4 linked regions of the Homo sapiens genome follow. The protein of the gene in region 1 purifies or fractionates together with the protein of each later gene. This does not show direct contact. Each region holds a gene or a part of one and is shown in the gene's direction. Other genes may lie near its edges.

Region 1 (7,033 bases):
CACAGGGTCAGGAGTTTGAGACCAGCCTGGCCAACATGGTGAAACCCCGTCTCTACTAAGAATGCGGAAATCAGCCAGGTGTGGTGGCAGGTACCTGTAATCCCAGCTACTCGGGAGGCTGAGGCAGGAGAATGGCTTGAAACTGGAGGGCAGAGATTACAGTGAGCCAAGATCACTTCACTATACTCCAGCCTGGGCAACAAGAGCAAAACTCCGTCTCAAAAAAAAAACAGACAAACCAAAGCTTGAGGCTTGCATACTGCTTCTGCCATTTACTAACAGCTCACCTCTCTGAACCTGTTTCCCTACTTATTTATTTATTTATTTTTTTGAGACAGGGTCTCACTCTTGTCTCGCCCAGGCTGGAGTGCAGTTGCGCGATCTCAGCTCACTGCAACCTCTGCCTCCCGGGTTCAAGTGGTTCTTGTGCCTCAGCCTCCCAAGTAGCCGGGATTACAGGCAGCTGCCACCACACCTGGCTAATTTTTATGTTTTTGGTAGAGATGGGGTTTCTCCATGTTGCCCAGGCTGGTCTTGAACTCCTGGCCTCAAGTGGTCCTCCTGCCTTAGCCTCCCGAAGTGCTGGGATTACAGGTGTGAGCCACTGTGCCAGGCCTTGTTTCCCTACTTATAAGATGGGACCAAATCTTACCTCAGAAGCTTGTGTGAAGATGAATGATCTCGGGTATTTAACGCATGTAGCGCAGTGTCTGGCGTGTTGTACGTGCGCAGTGAACGATAGTTCTCTGGGTCTCTGTTCTTGCCCCTTGTTTGTCAGCTGGCGTGAGGGCCAGAGGATAAGTTTTTCTCCCTCAAGAAACGAACCAACATTTTCCAAGTTGCTAACTGCTTCTCCATATTAGATTTTTGTTAATTTTCTGACCAGTGGGTGAGGTGGGATATCAGTTTTGCTTGTTATAGATAATGGGCTAAGACCAGGTGTGATGGCACATGCCTATTGGGAGGCCAAGGCAAGAAGACTGCATGAGGCCTAGGGAACATAGTGAGGCTCTGTCTCTAAAAAAAAAAAAAAGAAAAAAAAATTAGCTGGGTATAGTGGCATGCACCTGTAGTCCAAAGTACTTGGGAGACTGAGGTGGAAGGATTGCTTGAGCCCAGGAGGTGAGGGTCAAAGCTGCTGCACATGAGCCATGTTTGTGCCACTGCACTCCAGCATGGGCAACAGAGCAAGCCCCTGGCTCTAAAAAATAAAAAAATAATAATGGGCTAAAGCTCAAAGATGTTAAACAACTTGATGCAGTCATACAGCCAGGAAGTAGAGCCTGGACTAGAACCCACACCTCCTGAATTTAAATTCTGTGTTTTTTTCCATCAGCTCATAAATATGTAAACTAAAGGAAATTGTGGAAACTAACCTTTTGCTTATTTCTTTCAAGTCAACGTTGGTGAGGACTGTCCAGTATTCGATGGCCTGTTTGAGTTCTGTCAGTTGTCTACTGGTGGTTCTGTGGGTAAGGAATATTCATCTTCTCCCCAGGGGTAGACTGGGTTGTTCTAGTGAGGTCTGCCTTTTAGGCTGCTATCCTAGTTGGCTGATCTGAAACCATGTAGAATGGTCCTGTGGTTTTTACTGAAGTCTCTAAAATGGCTGGTGTAGTGTCTCACACCTGTAATCCCAGCACTTTGAGAGGCTGAGGAGGAGGATTGCTTGAGGTCAGGAGTTCAAGACCAGCCCAGGCAACATAGACCCTCCTGTCTATAAAAAAATAAAATAAGTAAAAACAATTAGCCGGGCATGGTGACTCGTGCCTGTAGTCCCAGCTACTCAGGAGGCTGAGGCTTAAACCCAGTAGGTTGAGGCTGCAGTGAGTCGTGGTCACACCACTACACTCTAGCCTGGGCAACAAAGCAAGACCCTGCCTCCAAAAAAAAAATTTAAAAAGCCTCTAAAATGTCCCTCTGGTTCAGTCCCAGCCCAGGTTCAATCTCTGACATGGTACTGACAGGTGTCCTTGACTGTCCTTTCCTACTAAGAGATCTTATGTACAGGCGTTCCCCGCAGACCTCCTGGGGTTGTTAAGATGCTGTACGTAAAAGCAATTTGTGAACTGCAAAGTGCTATAAAAATGGAAGTGTCATCATCTGTGAATCTGTCCTATGAAAAAGTATGGTAATTACCTTTAGAGGTCAGAAATACTCCTCATGTATCTCCCACTTCCATTTGCAACTTTTGGGTTATCTCCAGGATTACTCTAAACGCTTTCTTAACAAATATTTATTTTCCTGTGATCCCCCACCAATATAATCATTGTGTCCATCCCCGCTGCCCCACCAATATAATCACAGAAAACAAAGAAGTGCACAGAAAAAAACACAATCACCCACAGTCACAGGGTTGGTGGATAACCTCTGTTACCATGTTGGTGTTTGTATGGCCATTCTTTTGTGTGTGTGTTTATATCTGTGTCACACATATACAACATCTATATTTTACAAAAGTGGGTTATATACATATCACATATATATGGTTTTATGCCTGCATTTCCTACTTAACGAAATTGTCTGTAGTTTTCTACAGCTTGCTTTCTTGTGGCTCTATGATTATTCCATGTTGTGGATTTACTTGAGTTGATATAATCTGTCCCTCTTCTTGATAATTTGGATCAATCTATGCTTTTATTGCTGTTAAAATCAACACTGCAGCTGGACACGGTGGCACATGCCTGTAATCTCAGCACTTTGGGAGGCTGAAGAGGGTGGATCACCTGAGGTCAGGAGTTTGAGACCAGCCTGACCAACATGGTGAAACCCCATCTATACTAAAAAATACAAAAATTAGCCGGGCGTGGTGGTGTGTGCCTGTAATCCCAGCTACTTGGGAGGCTGAGGCAGGAGAATTGCTTGAACCTGGGAGGCGGAGGTTGCAGTGAGCCGAGATCGCGCCACTGCACTTCAGCCTGGGTGACAGAGTGAGACTCCATCTCAAAAAACAACAACAAATTAACACTGCCACAAATGCACTTGCACACATGGGTGTGTATTTATCTTTTACTTCTTCTGGGACCTATTCGTGCTAGTGCTTTTTGACCTAGTGTATCAGCACTATCTTTGGTAATTTTTCTTTTTCTTTTTTTTTGAAATAGAGTCTCCCTCCATCACCCAGGCTGGAGTGCAGTGGCGTGATCTTGGCTCACTGCAACCTCCGCCTCCTGGGTTCAAGCGATTCTCCTGCCTCAGCCTCCCCAGGTAGCTGGGACTACAAGTGTATGTCACCACGCCCAGCTAAATTTTTTCGTATTTTTAATAGAGATGAGGTTTAACCATGTTGGCCAGGCTGGTATCGAACTCTTGACCTCAGGTGATGTGCCCGCCTTGGCCTCCCAAACTTCTGGGATTACAGGTGTGAGCCACCGCGCATGGCCTATCTTTGGTATTTTTTCAAAGTTCCTTGACCATGAGCCATAGTAAGAAATAAATTTACACATGCAATCCAGGATACATATAACATATGCATGCATGCACACACTCACTCACTCTGAAGCCAGAGTTTTACAAAAGAGCAGTTACCCTTACTGTTACTCTGATATTTTTTTCTATGCTATTTCATTAAAAAAATATATATATATATACACACACACACTAATCATGATGTACTAAATCAATTTTAAGGCCTGCTAATGGGTTACTACCCTCAGTTTGGAAAATCGTTTTTTACGAGTAGACAGTATCATGTATTCCCTGCTGAAGTAGGGTGGGAGGGAGGGGACTGGTCTATGAATTGCACAATACAGCTGTTGAATAGGCAGGTCTTAACCTTTCACTAGGTTCCCTGGGCTTCTTGGAGGAAGGGGAGAGTGGCTTAGTAACAGGCTTATGTTCTCTTTTCTCATGCCCAGCAAGTGCTGTGAAACTTAATAAGCAGCAGACGGACATCGCTGTGAATTGGGCTGGGGGCCTGCACCATGCAAAGAAGTCCGAGGCATCTGGCTTCTGTTACGTCAATGATATCGTCTTGGCCATCCTGGAACTGCTAAAGTATGCCTGCCTGGCCTTGTCTCTTGGAAGAGCACCTTAGGCCAGGTTCCCATTTCCCTCTTCCCCTGGGCTTGCCTCCCTAGTTTGCTTTTCCTACCGATGTGCTGGCTAGGATGTGCTCGGTGAGTGTCTCTGGCCATCATCTCCTTGATGGGGTCTTGGTTTGATCTGAGCCACGGCATGATCAGGGGCAGATGCTGCTCAGATCCTGCCTCCAGAGTGTCCCTGTGTGGCTGGAGTTGACCCTGGCTGTAGAGTAGGAAGATCGGACTTGGTCGGCTTGGTCAGGCCTCTGGAGACACCCGGCCGCTCTTCCACCTTCCTTCAGCCAGTTTCCACGTCTCTGGTGCTTAGAGATACCTGAGGGAGGCAGCCAGCCCGGTAAGCTGGGAGCTAGCGCCCTTGGCACGTCCCATCCCCAAAGAGCCCCCAGACCCCTGACCCCCTTCTGATCCTAGGTATCACCAGAGGGTGCTGTACATTGACATTGATATTCACCATGGTGACGGCGTGGAAGAGGCCTTCTACACCACGGACCGGGTCATGACTGTGTCCTTTCATAAGTATGGAGAGTACTTCCCAGGAACTGGGGACCTACGGGTGAGAACGCCCTTTAGGAGCCAACCGGCTTACCCTCAGCTGGCAGCTCTACTTCTCTCTCCTATCTCATGCCACTAAAAATTGCTTCTTGCCTCTTCTGCCAATCAGAATACCACATCCCAATCTGAAGCACTTGCCCTGATCTCTTTCCCTTCCTTATTCTGGAGGAAGGGAATGATGGGACATAAAGGGCCAGAGAAAGAAGAGGGGTCTCCTGACTCACTGTACTTTCCTCCTGGCCACAGCTGGGTTGCATCACACTATTCTTATGTCTCATAAGCCTTGAGTTTGGGGGTAGGAATTGGGACTCTGAAGGACATCTCAAGTGTTCTTCATGTTTTTGGGTCACTTTCCCCTTTAGCCTTTTGACTGAAAACTATGGACTGTCTCTCCAGAAAAGTACATGAGATTTTACATCTGATATAGAATAGTTAATAGACAAGTCCCCTTACTGAAGCCCATCCATGAACCTTAGGATAAGAATCCTTGGAAGCTACTTCGTTGAACTGTTCCATCTGCTTCTATTAGCATGAATGTGGTGAAATCAGCTGCTTTGCCATGCCTGGTAGCCCTTGGGTAAAAAAGTGGCACTAATTCAGTTGTTTGCCATGGCAAGCGTTAGAATAAATGAGCATTCACTTTTTTTTTTTTTTTGAGACAGTCTCTCTCTGTCACCCAGCCTGGAGTGCAGTGGCGTGATCTCGGTTCACTGCAGCCTCCGCCTCCCGCCTCCAGGCGATCTTGTGCCTCAGCCTCCGAATAGCCGGGATTTAGCTGGGATTATAAGTGCGTGCAACTATGCCCGGCTAATTTTTGTATTTTTAAAAGAGATGGGGTTTTGCCATGTTGGCCAGGCTGGTCTCGAACTCCTGACCTCAAGATTCACCCGCCTCAGCCTCCCAAAGTGCTGGACTTAAATAGGCGCACTCACTATTTTGAGGTTACTGGGAAGGACTTTCTTACCTCTCTCCTTCCCTCCACAACACCCTAGAGAGGGAGCATGGGGGAAGAGGAGTGAGCATTAGAGCTCTCTGGAGTGGAAAGGGTTGTCAAGGGTGGCTGTCACTTCTGTGACTCACCTGCCAGCCAGCTCTAACCCAATCCCAAGGTAGAAATCTTGTGCTATAGGGTAGGCTATTCAATCTCTGGTCCCATCAAGAGCTCTCAGTCTGGGGGTAGGCTTAATGCTATGTCCAGAGATGATTTGCCAGTGAAGCTAGATTTGCCAGTGAAGAGAATGGTACTAACAAGGTACCTCTGTTCTGTCCTGGCCCACATCATGGGCCTAGCTTGTCTCTCTTGAACCTCTTCCTTTATCCCTCCAGCCCCTATCCTTGACCTTCCTTCAAGCTTCATCCTTCAGTTTTACTTTAATGGCCTTTTTAATTAGGATATCGGGGCTGGCAAAGGCAAGTATTATGCTGTTAACTACCCGCTCCGAGACGGGATTGATGACGAGTCCTATGAGGCCATTTTCAAGCCGGTAAGTGGCTTTATCCACCCCTTGGGCTACAAACAGGGGATTGGTTGGCGGTGGAGGGGAGCAAAGCACCCCCACCATACCTCAGGAATCTCTCCTTACTAAAGCTGGTGGGGAGATAGAAGTGTTTGAACCCTGGATTGCTGTGTGGTCAGTTAGGGGAACAAACACCCATATTTATTGGTTCCTTCTATGGGTCAGGTCTTCTGCTGGATACAAAAATATCTAAGACATGATCTTTGCCCTCACGGACTATGGTGGGGAAGGCAGGCACATACCCAGTAGTCTATGATTAGTACTGTTTTTGTATCTCCATTTCTTTGGGCTGCTGGGAGATTATTGTGTTCTTTTGGTAGTGGTATGTCTCCTTGGTTTTTTGTGTTCCTCATTGCCTTACATTGATGTCTGCACATTAGAAGAAGTAGGGACTTACTCCAGTCTTTGCAGACTGGCTTTGTCTGGGAAAGCCCTTTGCCAGTCAGCCCATCCAGAGATTCTGGAAAGGCTGTGTGGCATGTTCCATGGGTAGGCTGGCCTAGTGCCTGTGTTTTTGAGGGATGATCAGAGGAATGAGAGACAAACTACTGCCTGGGCTGGCAGGAGGGTAGCCAGGGATGATTTCACAGAGGTGCTGATGTTTAAGCTGGACTTTGGAAAATGAGGAGGTGCCCATGTGAAGAAGGAGGTGATGGCAGTAAGGGTGGCATTTAGTAGAAGGAATGGCACTAGCAGAAGTGCAGAGGTGCCAGTGTGGCAGCATGTAGGCCAGTGTGGTGTATGGGAGGAGTGCTGAAGGAGGCGGTGGGAAGTGTATGCTGGGCTCAGTATTTCAAAGGGAGCCTTGAATGCCATGCCAAGGAGTTAAATCTTCACTTATAAACAGTAAGAAACTGCTTAACCTAATAAGGTCAGGTAGTCATTCAGCAAACACTGACTGCCCACTATGTGCCTAGTATT
Region 2 (3,302 bases), on another chromosome or scaffold:
CCTCCCACCACAGCCTCCTGAGTAGCTGGGATTTTCTTGTGCATGGCAACTGCCTTTTACTGAATTCTGATTCTTGGTTAAGTCATCTCAGTTAAATTACTAAAAGTAGCTCCAAAGTTCGCAGCATTATCTAGTTAGTCATTCTCCTAATACTTTCATAGCAAAAGTTGAACTTAAATAGAACCCAGGGCCAGGCGCAGTGGCTCATGCCTGTAATCGCAGCACTTTGGGAGGCCAAGGCGGGCAGATCACTTGAAGTCAGGAGTTCAAGACCAGCCTGGCCAACATGGTGAAACCCTTCTCTACTAAAAATACAAAAAAATTAGCCGGGCGTGGTGGTGCATGCCTGTAGTCCCAGCTACTTGGAAGGCTGAGGCAGGAGAATCGCTTGAACCTGGGAGGTAGAGGTTGCAGTGAGCCAAGATCGTGCCGCTGCACTCCAGCCTGGGCGACAGAGTGAGACTGTCTCAAAAACAACAACAACAAATAGAACCCATTGCATTTCTAGGTCAGTTTGGTTCTATGTATTACGCTTTTTTAAAGAAAGAATTTTCTAAACTGTATTCAGTTTTGATCTTAATCATTTAAAAAATGTTGTTTTCCTTAGGTCTTGGTGGATGTCAGTGCTTACTCCCCATGAAATTAAATTTTACTTCATCCTTTGAGAAGCGAATGGTGAAAGCTACTGAAATAAGCTGTGATTGTACTGTACATAAAACATATGAGGAATCTGCAAGGAACACTACAGTTGTGTAAAGTTGTTCTGTTAACTTTTGTACCAAATAGCAATACAAACTAGTTGGAACAGTTGGAACTTACATACATGGGGACTGGAAATCTCTATTTTGTCCCTGAATAATATTTTTCTTAGAATTGACCAAATAAGAAGTGGAATTTTTGCATACTTGAGCGCTGCTGAAAAGAAATCATTTGGGTTGGGTGGGGCGGGATGGGGGAAAAGTATATAATGCTTGCACCTCAGGTAAAAATCTGTAAATATCTAAGTTGTAAACCTGCTTGTTCAAATACTGTGTGTATTCCTTTTCTCTAATGCAGCTCATCACTTGGAGCAGTTTCTGCTATTGTGCTCTTTCATTTAAAATGTATGTTTTTTTTTTTTTAAACTGTCAATGATTTTGTATTATGTTGAATCCACCCAAATCTATTGTTGTCTTAAAATTGTTAATGGAAGTATTGACCCTCTATGATATGTGCTGCAGATATCGAGGTCAGCCATTCGGAAGCTGGCAGCATTTTATCGCAACTTTGAGCATCTCAGATGGGGAAGGCACCTTCTTCCTCGCCTCTCCAGATTGTCCTGGAACCTCCAGGATCCTTGACTGAGGGCGTTGGGATGGCTTGTAGGATTTTTAAGAGAGTGTGTCTACAGACAAGCATTTTCTCTGTAGAGCAGCCACACGTTGTATAAACATAAACTGTATGTGCAGTTATTTAAATTTGTTTCTGTCAAATTAATCATTTTTGTTGGACGATTCAGTGGCGGGGGGGTTTTGCCTAAATTAGTATATAAAAACAAAAATGCTAAATTATATCTGTGAATTGCAGGTATTGGGGAACAGTTTTAAGGGAAATTTTGGGGGGAACATTTTAGGTTTGTATTTGGTAGTCTTAATGTATCTGGCATTTGGGTGAACTGTGGACATACTAGAGTTGATTATAGACACATTGATTTTGAATAAGGAACTGCTGGCCGAGCCCGCTGGGAGTCTAGAAAGAGAAAATCTGTTTCTAGACCTCAGTTATTTTCCCATTTTTGGTTGTTTTGAAGCAGTAACATTTTTCTCAGTGCACATGCAATTTGGGTTTTAGAGAAGATGGCCACCAGCTGGCTTCCTAGATATTTTAAACTTTTGTTCTTTAATATGCTGTCCATGGCTGAGTTTATTAGTACATGGGCTTAGTGACCACAAAATATTTTATTAAGAAACTGTTTCAAAAATAAATTTGCACTGTTCATTTTTCTGGCCTCGCTGTTCTCCATAGAGCAAGGGTAATCCTAGAAAAAATTTTTTTTTTTTAAATTATGCAACGTAAGATGTCCTCCTTGATAGAAGTCTTAGCTCCTGTGTTACAAGGGAGAACTCATTTGAGATCAGTCTGTTGGCATTGCAATGAAGTGCTTTGTATCAGGAAAGTGTACACTATTGACCTTTTTTCCTGTTCACAAGCTGAGCCATATGTACATAATCTAGATTTTGTTTTCATAGTTTTGCACTTTTATAGCCTATTTTTGAAGATTAACACATTTGCAAGATGATTGACTCAATCTTTGCCTAATCCAATGAGTGTTACAGAGAGCTTGCTGTGACTAGAACCATAAATCTTAAAGGGGGTATGTGATAATAGAGGGCTGGAATTTAAACCTGTATTTAAAAAAAAGAATCACCAAATCTATTTGAAAACAAGTCGATTTGTATTATGCTGGAATTTTTTGGGCTTTCAGATTTCTCTTTTTAACCACATTTCTGAATGTATAAAAATACCAATTATTTTCCTACAGCCCTTTGTACTTCAAAATATGTTTTTGTGTCCATCAGTATTAACTATTGGTATACTACTGGTTTTATATTTTTTTTTCTTTGAGACAACAGTACATATAATAGAGGTACAATTCGTTGGATTTTTGTTTATGTATTTATTTCATTCCAGTTTGATTTATTTTAATTGTTGATACTTAAGTTGTCGAACAGTAGACATTACTTGTTTTATTTATGATATATTTCAGCTTAAAGTTATGTTATTATATGTGGAAGTGTAAATATAGATTTGGTGTTTTGCAATCTTGAGTTTTAGTGTTTATTGTGTTTCTGGTTTCTGATTTTGTTTTATTTAACTTTTTAGTTTTCTTTCTTTTTTTTTTTTTTGAGATGTGCTCCTGCTCTGTCACTCAGGCTGGAGTGCAGTGGTGCAATCACAGCTCACTGCAGCCTTGAACCCCTGGGCTCAACTGATCCTCCAGCTCTCGGCCTCCCGAGTATCGAGCCATCATGCCTGGCTTATAAACACAATTTTAAGGCCAGCACGTGGCTCACGCCTGTAATCCCAGCCCTTTGGAAGGCCAAGGCGGGTGGATCACTTGAAACCAAGAGTTTGAGACCAGCCTGGCCAACATGGCGAAACCCCGTCTTTACTAAAAATACAAAAATTAGCTGAGTGTGGTGGTGCACACCTGTGGCCCCAGCTACTCAAGAGGCTAAGGCATGAGAAATCACTTGAACCCGGGAGGCAAAGGTTGCAGTGAGCTGAGATTGCGCCAGTGCACTCCAGCCTGGGCAACAGAG
Region 3 (7,405 bases), on another chromosome or scaffold:
TTAAATATATTTAAAGCAACGGAGAGGGGGGCAGAGAGAAGTCGAAAACTTTTATATATATACATATATATATATATATATATGTATATATATATATATTTTAAATCCCCCTTTCTTGTTCTCTTGGGAGGAAAGAGAGAAGGAAAAAAAGTCTTTCCTCAATTTTTTCCAAGACAATTTTTGGGGGTGGTTTGGCCCCCCTCCTCAGACGGCGGCCCCGAGGGTGGGGGTTTCGGAGGGGGGTGGCCCGGGGGTTTGGGGGGCTGGGGGAGGCGGTGAGGAGGAGGAGGACGCCGCCGCCGAGGAGGAGGAGGAGGAGGAGGAGGAGGAGGAGGAGGAGGTGGTGGTGGTAGCGGTGGGGGAGGCGGGCGGGCGGTGGGTGGGGGGGTGGTGGGGGGGCCAGAGCCACAGGATGGCTTCCCCTCTGAGGGACGAGGAGGAGGAGGAGGAGGAGATGGTGGTGTCGGAGGAGGAAGAAGAGGAGGAAGAAGAGGGCGACGAGGAGGAGGAGGAGGAGGTGGAGGCGGCCGACGAGGACGATGAGGAGGACGACGACGAGGGAGTACTCGGGCGCGGGCCGGGCCACGACCGGGGCCGCGACCGCCACAGCCCCCCCGGCTGCCACCTCTTCCCGCCGCCGCCGCCGCCGCCGCCACCGCTGCCCCCGCCGCCGCCGCCCCCGCCGCCAGGTAAGCGCCCGCCCCGACTCCCCCCCCAAGCCCGAGTGGGAGCCGCGGGCGCGCGAAGCCGGGCGGGGGCGAGGCACCCACCGCGCGGCCGAGCCGAGGCGAATCCGGAGCGCGAATCCGGGGCTCGGGCCCGTGGCCCCGCGGCGGTCCGGGAGGTCGGGGCGGGCGGTGGCGGCTGCGACCGCGGGGCCAGGCCTCCTCCCCTCCCCCGCCGCACCCCTCCCCCGCCGCCGCCGCCGCCGCCGCCGCCGCCGCCGCCGCCACCCCGGCTGGAGAGCGCTGGGCGCGAGCTGCGCGCGCGGACCGGGCCACTCGGTCGCGGCTTTCGGGGGAGGAGGAGGAGGAGGTTTTTTTTTTACCCTCGGCGGGGAGGGGGTAGGCAGGAAACGGCCAAGGCGAAGCCAGGGCCCCCTCCCTGGCCGAGCGAGGGACCGCCGAGACCCTGGCGGCCGGACGGCGGCGTGGGGGAGGGGCACGTGGGGGAGGGGCGGCCGCGCGAGCGCCCCTCGGGCTCTGGCCCCGGTGGGGTTGGACCGAGGGAGAGTGGGGTTTCCCCGCACGGAGCAGCCGACGGGCCTGCCCCCTCCGCTCAGGACTTGGACAGGCAGAGTGGGGACGGTGTCCATCGGACCCCCCTCCACCCGCGGAGACTTAGGTGCCCGCCAACTGAGGGGCATGCGGTGGCACGCGAGGGAGGGGTCTTGTGAATGTTTGTGGGCTGCTGATGAGTAGGGGCAGGTGGTGGCCACAGTCCACGCAGACCACTTCCTGGAATAAGGCAGGAGCTCGTCCCCTCGCTCCCCCAGCCTGTGCAGGGACAGCAGTCCATTCGGATTGGGGAGCGGAGAGAAGAGTGTCTGGGGAACCAGATACCCCCGGCTCCACCCCCTTCATCTCGCCGGGGCTCTGGGCTCTTTTGTGTCAAGTGCGGTGGGGGGGGTCCCCCTCTTGACCCCGTCAGTCTGGGGTGGCCAAGCTGCCCAGCTGTGACTCTCACGTGGCTGCCATTCACTGTCACTCACTCTCTCGCTGAAACCACCCACTCCCTGAGCACGTTGGGGGGCGTGAACTGCCCACCCAGCTGTTCTGCAGCTTGACCATCACTCAGCACCCGTCCCCCGAGGTGACAAGTCACCCGGCGGCACTCTCTGGGCGGCGCTCTCCAGACCGCTGCGCCGCGTCAGGCGCCCAGCGGTGTCCCCCTCAGACCACCCTCCTAGTGGAGTGATTTCTAGTCTTCTTTGGGATAGGTGAGCATCTGGGTGTCCACACCCCCTGCTTGGGGAACAGCAGGGGGACCTCCGCACCCCCGGGCCTCTGGCTGCCATGCGGCACAAATGCACCAAACTTCAAAACGGCCAACTCCGGGCTCTTTGTAAAACTGTCATATTGATCCGTGTGGCTTCTGTGGCAAACGTTCCTGTCTAGCCGAGACGACCTTTGGGGGAGCGGGGGGTGCTTTCTTGTGGGTCGGGGAGGGATGTGTGTCTCCTGGAAACTGGATAAAGTCTCCCCGCCCCCCAAGCTTGTCTGAAAAAGGGTAAAGTTTTGAAAAAGTTCTCCCAGAGAGCCCCCTGCCTTGGCAGGAGGAGGAGGAATGAGGAGTTGTGGGGAGAGGGTGCCTTTGGGGTTGCCTCCGGCAGAGGCGCTGAAAAGAGGGAAAGAAAGGCCGTCAGGTCCTGCCAGGGGCTTGGCAGCGCTCACCTATTTGTATTGGGACTTGGAGTCTGGGGTGGGGTGGTGTGGGTCCCGGATCTGGGTACGTTGGGGAGAGAAGCGTGAAAGGATCCGAGGTTGAGATGGGTCTTTGTGTCAACCCGGCCTCCCCTTTCCCTCTTGGCTTTCTGAATAGACCAGAAGAGACGTCAGAGGCTGCTTACATTTTACAACTGAAATGAAAACCCACCTCCCCTCTCCCCCTGGGCAATTTTTATCTCCCTTTCAGCCCTCCAAGTCGAATGAGTGACCCAGATACACCCCCTCAGATGACTTTCGGAGGTAAAACTTCGGGAAATTATTTTTAGCACACTCATTATTTCTGTCTACCTAAGTGTGGGGAAAAGAACCCTCCTCTAAGGAAATTTGTTCAGGCTGCCCTCGCTCTTCCTTGTCTAGAGTATGCATTTGTGCACAGGAGAGATTTCCATTGTTTTCCATTCCGACTGCTTTGATTCTCACCATTTTGTTTTACATTCTTACTCAAGACCAATTTTATCCCTTCCCCCTCTCTCCAGTCTCCTTACATTGTTAAACGTTTAAAATAATAGCAGTCGTGTTGGTGGGGGAAGGGAGCAGGAAGCCAAAAACTCATTTCTTCTCCCTCCCCCTTCTGGCAAGTCGAGAGAAATAATATAACATAATATATAGATGTGATTCCTTGGGGGTGGGGGTGGGGAATGATTGTGGGTGGTGCGGAAAATTCTGGTAGTTTCTTTGCAAAAGGTCTGAAAATACAAACCCACCCCCTGCCTGCAGTACGCATGTGCAGCAGACCTATTATGGTGGTGCGTTGTGGGGGAGGGAGGGGAATTTGAGAAAAAATAAATATATGTGTGAGAGATTGATGGTGAGATTAGAAGAAGAGAGGGGCGGGCGGGAGGCGAGGCTTCGGCCGAGACTCCTCCCGCTTGCTCGGGCGGCCAGGCTCCGCCCTGCGCCCTCCGGCCCCCGCCTCTCTCCTCCCTGCCTCCCTGAGATCCGAGCCGGGGATGTGGGAGAGTCTGGGCTCCAGGCCAGCATTGAGTGGCTGCTGAGACCGAGGTTGGGACTTAGATTTGCTTTATTACCCTTCCTTGCTTTTCCTTGCCGTTCTCGCTTTGCCTCTCCCGCCACCGACGCCTGCCCAAGTTCGGGAACCTCCCGCTGGGGTGGGGAGTAGAGTGAACCGGCTTGTGCACCACCCCTGGCTGGTGGTGGCCGAGGCCGTGTCCCTGAACCTTAGCCAGTTGGCCTGCCCTTGCCACTGCCTCGGCAGCCTGCGTTTCCATGTTCAAGTCAACCGAAGTCCCTGGGGCCAGGGGGAGCCGGCTGCTGGGGCATGGCGCCTTCCTTGCTGACTTCCTATTACAGTCCCCATTCCGTTTCACACCCGGGCTCTGGCAGCCACCCCCCTGCACACACGCACACAGTCCTAGAGTGTCTTCCTGCACAAGGGGACACAGGATGCTGGAGTTAGCAGGAAAGGTGGCACTGAAGGAAGGCGAGGCAGCGACTCTGAGGCAGTGGAAACGGAGGCCTCTGGTGTTAATTGTGGCTAATTTTCCGTTGGCTGTTGAGGGAAGGAGAAAGGATTGTGTGTCCTAGAGCTAGGGGCTGGGCCAAGCCCAGGCTTTCCCATCTTGCATCGGCTGCCTCTCTCTGTACTAGACAGGTCTGGCTGGTTAGTCTAGTGCTTGGTAGGGGAGGGACGTGAACCAGAGCCCCAGGGCCCCAGGTCTGTGGGGCATCCTGTCTTCCTTTATGTGGGGTAACTCTCCGTTCCGTTCCCCAAGCCTTCACAGAGTGACACCTTCACAGATAATGGGGTGGGGGGCCTGGGGTCCTCTGGCAGAGACATCTGGGGAGAAAGCCAGGGACCTATCCCTGCTGAAGCAGGTACAGGCCATCCTCTGGATTTGTGGGCCTGAGAGTGTGTGTGGGTGTGGGTGCGCGCGTGCGCGCGCGTGCTTTTGAGAAGGCATATGCTGGGTGTGTCTGTCTGTGCCTATATCTTTGTTTGGGTCTCCCATACTGCGTATAGATGAATGGGTCAGGATATCTGGAACAAAATATGGAGGTGAAGGGTGAGATCGGGAAACAAAGGGTATGGCCCCCTAGTTCCCAAAGGGAGCAGGGAGATGGGAATAGAATTGAAGGTAGGTTTTAGGCTACTTGGGAGGAGGAATATTTAGGTAATTGTGGAGACTTTCTCCTGTGTGATGAAGGCGGCAGACACTGTGATCCTGTGGGCAAGAAGTAAAAATGACCAGCTGAGGATTTCTTTTCCTCCAGGACTGTGTTGGGGTGACAGGATGCCTGGTAATTATCCGAGGAAATGTAAATAGAGGCCTCCCTCTTGGCAAAAGGATGTCAGGGCCCCAGGGTGTTAGTGTGAGAACCCAGGTGTCCACCTTTGGCTCTCCCTCCCCAGCATCTGGCTTAGGGAGCTGCCAGCTTGTGTCTCCCCACTCCAAGTGCTGGGGTCAGGCCAGGCCAGCAGCTGGGCATGGCTTCCCCAGTTCCTGGGCAGGATGCCAGCTGGCGAAGTGAGGGGGAAGGCAGGAGGAGCCCTGGCGGTGACTGAAAGGACCTGCCACAGTCAGAGCCCATGGCCTGGAGCCTGGTCTCTTGTTAGTAGGAGGGGAGGGAGGGGAGTGGTTTGGCTGCTCTTCTCTTCTGACCCCTGACCTCCCATTCAGAACCAGAGCATCCCAGAGTACTCGAAACACTTTCTGTTTGCATCCAGTGAAGGGAGGCAGGGCTTGGAGGAGTTAATGCTTCCTAGAGAGTGGGAACTGCCGAGGTGGGGAAGGGGCAAGTTGAGGGGCCTCAGAGGCTGGAAACCTAGAGGCTTAGGTTTTCTGATGCTTTTTGCTTCAAAGATAAGGATGACATTCGGCTGCTGCCGTCAGCATTGGGTGTGAAGAAGAGAAAACGAGGACCCAAGAAGCAGAAGGAGAACAAGCCAGGAAAACCCCGAAAACGCAAGAAGCGTGTAAGTGTCAAGAATTCCTAACTCTGTGGCAAGGCTCAAGAGACCCATTCTCAGAGACCTACATTTTCTCTGGTCCTGATTACTGGTGTGGGGGTGGGGTTCTGAAGCCAGGGAGGCTTGATCCCCCGGGCCCCCCACTTCCCTGCCACTGTTGGCCTGTATCTCAGGGATCTGGGACCCTAACTTCATTCACTGCAACCTAGTGAAGAGCCTCGTTGTCAGTGTGTCCTCAGCAGCAAAGAGAAGCAGTTGAAAGCACAAGCTCTGGAAGACTGTATGAATTCAAGAGTCCAGCATTCCTCTGTCTAGGATACCAGGCCGTTTATTTGGCTCTCTGTGCCTTAGTTTCCTCATCTGTAAAAAGTAGATAAAGGCCGGTTGCAGTGGCTCACGCCTGTAATCCCAGCACTTTGGGAGGCTGAGCCGGGTAGATCATTTGAGGTCAGGAGTTCGCGACAAGCCTGGCCAATGTGGTGAAACTCCGTCTCTACTAAAAATACAAAAATCAGCCGGGCGCGGTGGTACGTCTGTAATCCCAGCTACACAGGAGGCTGAGGCAGGAGAATCGCTTGAACCCGGGAGGTGGAGGTTGCAGTGAGCCGAGATCACGTCAGTGCACTCCAGCATGGGTGACAGAGCAAGACTCCATCTCCAAAAAAAAAAAGGAGATAAAAAATTAGTTACTATCACAGGATTGTTGTGAAGATTAAAAGAGGTAAGATATGGTATGTGCTGAGAACAGTTTCTGGCAATGGTAGGGATGAATAAATGTTATTTTTATTTCTTTCTCTTAGGACAGTGAGGAGGAATTTGGTTCTGAGCGAGATGAGTACCGGGAGAAGTCAGAGAGTGGGGGCAGTGAATATGGAACCGGACCGGGTCGGAAACGAAGAAGGAAGCACCGAGAAAAAAAGGAGAAGAAGACAAAGCGGCGGAAAAAGGGGGAGGGAGATGGGGGGCAAAAGGTGAGTAGAATTAGGGAATGAGAGTGAGAAATCTGCATTAAAGACGGGCATGAGGAGGGGAGGAATGGAGACTGGACTGGAGAATGGGGCAAGAAGCAAGAAAGCCCAGGGAAGCTAGTGGGTAGGTAGACAGGCCTGTGTGCGGCCTGGAATAGGGGCTGGAGGAGCACCTACTTCACCAAAGCCCCTCTCCCGCAGCAAGTGGAACAGAAGTCATCAGCAACTCTGCTTCTGACCTGGGGCCTGGAGGATGTGGAGCATGTGTTCTCTGAGGAGGATTACCACACGCTCACCAACTACAAAGCCTTCAGCCAGTTCATGAGGTGCGGTAAGACTGGGGAATCCTCGCTAATTGACACTTTTAATTTGAGGGAGGTCCTGGACCCCTTGGAATCTGATGAAAGCTATGAAACTGCTCTCCAGAGAATTCACGGTGTATACACACCAAATTCTACACGTCATTTCAGGGAACTCCTAGACTCATAAGGATCCAAGAACCCCAGTTGAGAACTCTTCACTGAGGGGCGAGGGGTGGAGGGGCCATCATGATTCCAGTGCTGGGTTAGAGAACTCTTTAGCAACAGAATAAAGTGAGGACAGAATATAGTGAGCCCTCCCCTGCCCCAACAGCTCCATCTTCTGCTCTGTGACTTCTCTCTAGACTGGACCTGAGAGATACCATCAGTGTTCCTGAACTTCCTTAGCTCACTTAGCAGGTCCTGTGCCCCTTCCTTAGGCCCTGGTAATAATGGAGGGTCCACTGCTGGCAGTGGGACCTGAGCTTCAGTGGCTCCTGAAGAAAAGTAGAGAATAGTAGAGTAGAAAATAGCAGAGATGGGCCAGGTGCAGTGGCTCATGCCTGTAATCCAAGCACTTTGGGAGGCCAAGGCAGGTGGATCGCCTGAGGTCAGGAGTTCAGGACCAGCCCATCCAACATGGTGAAACCCCGTCTCTACTAAATACAAAAAAATTAGCTGGGCGTGGTGGCACATGCCTGTAATCCCAGCTACTCGGGAGGCTAAGGCAGGAGAATCGCTTGAACCCGGGAGGCAAAGGTT
Region 4 (7,309 bases), on another chromosome or scaffold:
CCCAGGCTGGAGTGCAGTGGCGCGATCTCGGCTCACTGCAAGCTCCGCCTCCCAGGTTCACGCCATTCTCCTGCCTCAGCCTCCCGAGTAGCTGGGATTACAGGCGCCCGCCACCACGCCCGGCTAATCTTTGTATTTTTAGTAGAGATGGGGTTTCACCGGGTTGGCCAGGCTGGTCTTGATCTCTTGACCTTGTGATCCGCCCGCCTCGGCCTCCCAAAGTGCTGGGATTACAGGCGTGAGCCACCACGCCGGGCCTTGTTTGTTTTTTTAAACCTTTCAAAATGTGACTCATGTTTTGTGGCACGGGTTAGGTCTCCAGGAAATAGACTGCGAGACAAAGATTATGTGCAGGAATATTGTCGGGGTTACCCTTGGGGTCAACACCTGTCAGAGAGTGAAGGAAGCAGGGCTGGAGGGAGGGAGGAGCGAGCTGAGATGACCAAGCCGCCTCCAATCCTACAGGAGCTCTGCAGCCTCACGGTTGACCCCAGTTGGTCACAGGTGCCTGGGTCTTTATGGATCTGTACCAGCCAGTCGCTGATGTGGGCCGCCCCTCAGAGGGATACTTGACCCTGAGCAGAGGGGGAAGTTAGTGCTTGTGTAGGGGAGGGTTTGATGATGCACCCAGCATCCACCACAGGCCACCCCATGCACTACTCACAGCTCCTCCAGTATCTTGTGAGGCCTCTTTTTTCTAGGGAAAATTTGCAAGAACGACACTGCTTGGGTGAACTACAGCGTCCCCTGCCTCCCCGCCTCGGGGCTGCAATGGATTCATCACCCCCAGCTCCACCACGCAGTCTCCATCTGCTCCAAGAGGTGTAGCGATGCGGTGACCTGGACCCTCATCCCGGGACACCATGCCTCTGTCAAACTTGGGAGCTGCCCGGTGACCATGAAAACCAGGCAGAGAAGAAACAGGGAGCCTGGAGTGGAGGCACATGCAGGCGTATCTCCTCCAACGTGAGGTGTCCACTCAAACCACTGTGCCACGGCCAGGGGCACCCTCTCCAGCCTCTCCCCTTAAGCTCCCTGCTCAAGATTCGCTGCTCTTTATTTTCTGAGTTTTACTTCATTTTATGCTCATGGAATAATTGCAAGAATGAGTATAGTAGAAACCCTCCGTACTGGCCGGGTGCTATGGCTCACGCCTGTAATCCCAGCACTTTGGGAGGGTGAGGTGGGTGGATCACGAGGTCAACAGATCGAGACCATCCTGGCCAACATGGTGAAACCCCATCTCTACTAAAAATACAAAAATTAGCCAGGTGCGGCACATGCCTGCAGTCCCAGCTACTCCAGAGGCTGAGCCAGGAGAATGGCGTGAACCCGGGAGGTGGGGCTTGCAGTGAGCCAAGATTGTGCCACTGCACTCCAGCCTGGGCAACAGAGCGAGAATCCATCTCAAAAAAAAAAAAAAAAAAAAAAAGATTTACACAGGTTTATCTTTTCTGGCATTAACTTTTTTTTGTTGTTGTCGCTGTGGTTTTTTTTTTTTTTTTGAGACGGAGTCTTGCTCTGTCGCCCAGGCTGGAATGCAATGGTGCCATCTCGGCTCACTGCAGCCTCCACCTCCCGGTTTCAAGCGATTCTCTTGCCTCAGCCTCCCGAGTAGTTGGGACTACAGGTGTGCACCACCACGCCCGGCTAATTTTTTGTATTATTTTAGTAGAGATCAGGTTTCACCATGCTAGCTAGGCTGGTCTTGAACTCCTGACCTCGTGATCTTCCTGCTTCAGCCTCCCAAAGTGCTGGGATTACAGGTGTGAGCCACAGCGCCTGGCCTGTTTTGTTTTGAGATGGAGTTTTGCTCTTGTCGCCCAGGCTGGAGTGTAGTGGCGCAATCTCAGCTCACTGCAACCTCCGCCTCTCGGGTTCAAGTGATTCTCCTGCCTCAGCCTCCTGAGCAGCTGGGATTACAGGCACCCGCCACCACGCCCCATTGTGGCATTAACATTTCTGAAGAATACAGTCCCTCTTTTGTTTAACAGAATATTCCTTATTTGGGTTTGTCTGAAATTTCCTCATATGTAGATATGGGTTGTGCATTGCTGGCTGGATTCAGTGATGCCGTGTCCTGCTTTGGACACCACATCCAGGTGCACATGGTGTGCACCTGCCCTTTACCAGGGATGCTGAGTTTTATCACCCACCCAACAAGTGGCTTCATTTCTCCACTGCGACTAACAGTCTACGGAGACAGACTTTCAGACCTTAAAATATCCTTCACTCTTTTTTTTTTTTTTTTTTGAGACAGGTCTCACTCTGTTGCCCAGGCTGGGGTGCAGTGGCACAATCACTGCTTACCGCAGCCTCGACCTCCTGGGCTCAAGAGATCCTCCCACTTCGGCCTCCAGAGTAGCTGGGACTACAGGCACATTATCGTCATGCCCTCTAATGTTTAAAGTTTTTTTTTTTTTTTTTTGAAACAGTGTCTCACTCTGTTTCCCAGGCTGGAGTGCAGTGATCTTAGCTCACTGCAACCTCTGCCTTCCCAGGTTCAAGTGATTCTCTTGCCTTAGCCTCCACAGAATAGCTGGGATTATGGGCACTCGCCACCACGCCCGGATAATTTTTGTATTTTTAGTAGAGACAGGGTTTCACCCTGTTGCCCAGGCTGGTCTCAAACTCCTGACCTCAAGTGATCCTCCTGCCTCTGCCTCCCCAAGTGTTAGGATTAGAGGTGTGAGTCACCGTTCCAAGCCACAATACCCTTCTCTTCACCCAAGTCCTCATTTGACATCTATGTGATGATTCTTGCCAAGCCCTCTCCTAAGAGTCTTCCCTCGTTTTGCCAGGTGGACTCAAGCCCTTGTCTTCGGGCCCCTCCACCTGTTACAGCACAGCACCTCACTCTCTTATCTGTTCATGCTTCTCCCTGCTTCACAGGACCTCTGGCTACCCAGCACCCAGTTGAGGACTGCATAAGATATGTGTTTAGTTCACTGAATGACTGAATGAATAATAACAAATGAATAATAAAGGAAGGAACCAACTCTTGCACAAATCAGTGAGGACTCTTCAACACGAGGGCCAGAACCCTCAATCTCAATGATGTAAACCAAAAAAGGAGTGAGGGTAGACCCCTCCAGAGTGGTTCTTCTATCTCTTGGTTGGTGAATTCTCAGAGGACTGAGTAATGATTTTGCATCAGGAATCAAGGCTGATGCATGTCAAGTTCTCACTATTCATTGGCTGATCACTGGGAAACAGGAATGAGACTCATTCTCTTCTTCCTGGTCCCCAATTCCCTTCCTCCTGGTCCCCAATTCCCTTCTTCCTGGTCTCCAGTTCTCTTCTTCCTGGTCTCAGTAGGAACCGCCCTCCACTCATTTGCGCAAGCCAGACATCTGGAGGCCATCCTTCACTCTCTCCAGCTTCCCTCCATCAGCGAGTCTTGTGGTGTCCACCTTCTCAAGTCTCTCTGCACTCTGGTCCAGGCCCCACAGCTCCCACCTGGCCCCTGCCTCTTCACGCCCCACCCCTGCTTCCTATCCTCTCTCTGCATCGTGCGCCCCGAAGATTCACGGCACTTATCCGTCTCAAATTTAAGGTGTGGCGAGTCCTTGCCTTCCCATCCTCCACTCTAAACGCCCTGAAGACAGGCGTTAGGGCTGTCTCCTTCAAACCCTCAGGATCAGAACGTGCACGTGTTCCAGAAATGTTCAATCTGCGAAACGACGGACTGCAGAACCAAATGGCCCTGGGGTCAAGCCCACCTCCCTGCCTCCCGCCTTGGGCTCTCCGGCGCGGGGCCACCGTTTCTAAAACCTCTCCGACTGGTGCGCGTTCGCAAGCTCCCCGATTGGTTCCTCCGCGCGCTAGTTTGCTCATCACGGGTGCGAAAGTGCAGAAAATTCCAGAACCACGCAGCCCGGACACCAATTCTGGCTCTATCACTGACACTCTGGGTGGCCCGTCGCCCTGGGCCTCAGTTTCCTAGTCTGCCACGCGGGGTATTAACAGCGAGCAGCCGAGGGAATGAAGAGGTCACACAGGACCACGTGGTCCCCACGCAGGTGTGATTATCAGGAATTCGTATTTTTATGGAATGCAGTCTCCTCCGCCAAGGCCAAGGCCAAGATCAGGGTCCAGCAGAGACGGCCGGAAAGACACCGCAAGCTCGCCAGAAGCCGCCGGCCACGCTCGGCTGCGCGCCCGCGCCCGCGCCCGCGCACCTACTACGCGCCCGGCCCGCTCTCCGCCCCCTCCAGGCTCCGCCCCCTGCCCCGCCCTCCAGGCTCCACAGCCAATGAGTGCGCGGCCCCTCATCCGGGGATCCCGGCGCGGCCACCGCCTCCCGCGCACACACGGCCATGGCGGAGGTGAGTGAGCGGGCCGGGGGAGCCGGCCCCCCGCCCCCGCGCGTCCGCGCCCCCCGCCGCCGTGGCTCGGCCTCGTCGTGGGCCCCAGGGACGGAGAGCCCCGCTCTGGAGCTCTGAGGCCGGCCGGGGCGCCTGGCCCGTCCGGGGCCGGAGGGGCGCGGGGCTCCATCGGCGGCCGCCCCCGGCCGGCCCCCACCCCCCAACTCCCCCGGCTGCCACATCGCGGGCTGCAGTGCGCATGCGCGGCGGCGCGGGGCGGGCGGGGGCCGGGGTGGGGGAGGGGAGGGACGCGGGGCGGGGCTGGTGTCGGGGGTCCGGTGGGCGCGCGGCTCCGTTCCAGGGTCCGGCTCCGGTTCCCGGCCCCGGCCCGGGCCCCGCGGCGCGCAGGCCTCCCCTCCCGCGCCTTTGCCAACTTTGCCGAGTGCTGGGGCCGCCAGGCGCCCCGCGCTCCCCATCGGGATCCCGGTGGACCCACCGCGCCTCCGCCGCCCGCGAGCCCCCCGGCGGGGCTGGGTCAGACCCCGGGCGGGATTTGAACTCCCGACGCGGACCCGCCTGGCGCGAACTGGGCGCAGGGTGGGTGGGTCTGCCGGGGCCTAGAGAGCGTCGGGGCTGATCTCAGAAGAGTTGGACCAGCCTCTCCCGGGCACGAAGTTACTTCTGGAGCCTCCTCCCTCGTCCAGGAAACAAGCCCGGGACCCTTTATCTGAAATGTTTGGGACCAGCTATATTTTGGAATCCAGAATTTTTCCAATTTGAGGATCTGTGGGATTTTGGACTGTGATGTTTGATCAAACCCACCTAGGACTGTCTAGGATAAGACAACAGATAGCTTCGTGTCAGGTCAAACCAGGAAGGAAGAAACTTTCGCTTTTGAAGCTTTTTTTGATTTTGGAGTGGTGGATGAGCCTGTGTGGACTTGCTTTCACCTTGGAGGGCCCTGGTGAAGATGGAAAGAGATAATGTAGGTGAAGGTGCGGCGGCTGCGAGGTGCTCAGTCAGTGGGACTCAGTGCATGACTTCTGTGCGCAGAAGTTACGACAGGCGGGCAGACTCAAGAGCTGATCCTATCTCTGGGATAGAGCCCAAAGGAAAAGGTGCCCACCCAGCCAGGCACAGCCGCCTCGTGGGAAGCCGGGATTGGAACTGCGGCCTGGCCGTGGTGCCACGTTGCGTGTTTATGTCTTGGGCGTTGTGGGAGGCAGGACTGGCCATTCTCTCCCCCTGGTGACGACCTCAGGGGCAGTAACAGGCCCTGTGTTTATGCCAAAGACGGTGTAGGTGTCTCGATACTAGGCCAGACCACCGGCCAGTTCCTTCATCGAGAATTAGTTCTTCTTGAGACGCTTAGGGAGACTGAGTCCCCATGCAGATGGTGGCTGTCCTCCAGGGTCGGAGGCAGAAGCCGCGTCTCCCAGTGGCCCTGCAGCGACGTGGTGGTCGAATGAGTTGTGCTCCTGGAATCTGGGCAACACACGTGGCCTGACAGGTAGCTCTGTGTCTGGGATGGCACAAGTCAGACTCCCAAGCCAGCCTCCCCCAGAGCTGCCATGTGGCTGTTCTGCCCTGCTCTAGGCTGAGCTCCGTAAATGTGCACAGCAGCTTGTGGTCCGGCTGCTCCTGTTAACCCTGTTTTACACTTTGGGGTGGTGCCCTGTTGAGTGAATTTGATTTGATTTTCTAAGGAGGTCCCGCTCTGTCCTCGGCCTGAGGATCTGGGAGTGAATGGAGCAGACAGGGCCTCTCCTACAGGGATGCAGAGTCTGGTCAGAGAGAGACGTGGGTGGGTTAGGACCAACAAGTATGAGGTGCTGAGCGTGAGGAGCCATGGCAAGCTGTCTGACCACCGGACTTGTTCTGTGTGGTCTTGGGCAGGTTGCCCAGTGACTCAGAACTTCCTTTTCCTCATCTCTGAAATGGGAAGTTTAATGGTCACCCTTCAGAGCTAGGAGGTCTGATGAGGTCCTGCCACAACGGCTTGTACATGGAAGTTGAATCTTGTGAAGTTGACGATATTCCACTGTTTTTAACCCGTAAAAGTGGCAATTTGTAACTTTATAGCACGTGATCAGTACTAGCTACTTTATTCTGTATCAGTATCCCAGAATAATCATAAGCACCACAGTGGCAGACGGGAATGCTTCATACTTTTCTCAGGCATACTAGATTGATCTTTTAAAAACCTAAGAGCACCATCTTTTGCTCCTACCTAAAACCCTCCATGGCTTTTCATGGTCCCTGGGATAAAATGCTCCTCCTTGCTGAGTCCCACAGCCCTGTGAGGTGGTCCCCACGGATCTGCCCCCTACTCTAGGGCCCTGGGCTCCTGTTTGCTGGTGCACTCTACCCATTTGGGGGCTGCCAACGATGGTTCCACCTCGACTGAGGCCCCCCAGGCCTTCCCTGACCCGCAGTTGCAGAGCCCGTGCGCCCTGTTTTCTCTTCTCGGTACCATACATGTCCACTTGTTTGTTGTCTGTGTCCAAAACTAGCAACTCCATGTGGGTGGAGGCAGGTGGAACTTGTTTCTCAGGTTAACCACCACGCCACTGCCTTGCTGAGCCCAGAGTGGGCGCCCAGGGAACATTGGTCAGACGGAGGAGTGGGGTGCTGGGTAGTCCAACAAGCGCCTGGCACTTGAGTTGGTGTGGGTGGGAGGAGGGTCAAGCATGGCTCTTAGGAGGAGGTTGTTTCAGTCACACTGGGGAGAGGGCTTGGGGCATGGGAGAGGTAGGTGCAGCCATCTTGGCGAATGGAACCTGCCACCCTGTCATTTTGGGTTAAGCTTTGCAGGGTGGCCTCTTGTGTTTTTGGTGCACTCTATACCTGTGGGGGCTGCCCTGGGGGAAGGGCTGGTCTGTGCTCTGCACCCAGTCCTCTGGTGCAGTCTTTATGTTGAGTAGCTGGCTGCCGCTTCTACTGCCTGAAGACCCTGGTGGACGCCTGGGTCTGTGGCCTGTTGTCCTCTGGACCTTGTTTCT

Evidence for each region.
Region 2: the proteins of HDAC1 (region 1) and ZNF217 purify together in Homo sapiens (co-immunoprecipitation; 7 studies listed by BioGRID and IntAct, with this or other methods). This does not show direct contact.
Region 3: the proteins of HDAC1 (region 1) and CHD3 purify together in Homo sapiens (affinity purification with mass spectrometry; 15 studies listed by BioGRID and IntAct, with this or other methods). This does not show direct contact.
Region 4: the proteins of HDAC1 (region 1) and MIER2 purify together in Homo sapiens (affinity purification with mass spectrometry; 5 studies listed by BioGRID and IntAct, with this or other methods). This does not show direct contact.

Annotation. Positions count from the first base shown.
Region 1 is NC_000001.11:32,323,082-32,330,114, forward strand, and holds part of HDAC1 (histone deacetylase 1), read left to right. Parts: intron 1-1,397; coding exon 1,398-1,472; intron 1,473-3,857; coding exon 3,858-3,996; intron 3,997-4,062; exon of another isoform or gene 4,063-4,377; intron 4,378-4,454; coding exon 4,455-4,596; intron 4,597-5,986; coding exon 5,987-6,079; intron 6,080-7,033. UniProt on the Homo sapiens protein: Histone deacetylase that catalyzes the deacetylation of lysine residues on the N-terminal part of the core histones (H2A, H2B, H3 and H4).
Region 2 is NC_000020.11:53,566,570-53,569,871, reverse strand, and holds the end of ZNF217 (zinc finger protein 217), read left to right. Parts: intron 1-607; coding exon of another isoform or gene 608-756; 3' UTR 757-2,801; downstream 2,802-3,302.
Region 3 is NC_000017.11:7,884,395-7,891,799, forward strand, and holds the start of CHD3 (chromodomain-helicase-DNA-binding protein 3), read left to right. Parts: upstream 1-4,394; 5' UTR 4,395-4,428; coding exon of another isoform or gene 4,429-4,471; 5' UTR 4,472-4,606; coding exon 4,607-4,706; intron 4,707-5,269; coding exon 5,270-5,382; intron 5,383-6,176; coding exon 6,177-6,347; intron 6,348-6,545; coding exon 6,546-6,670; intron 6,671-7,405.
Region 4 is NC_000019.10:341,793-349,101, reverse strand, and holds the start of MIER2 (mesoderm induction early response protein 2), read left to right. Parts: upstream 1-4,305; 5' UTR 4,306-4,319; coding exon 4,320-4,328; intron 4,329-4,627; exon of another isoform or gene 4,628-5,277; coding exon of another isoform or gene 5,278-5,292; exon of another isoform or gene 5,293-7,309. UniProt on the Homo sapiens protein: Transcriptional repressor.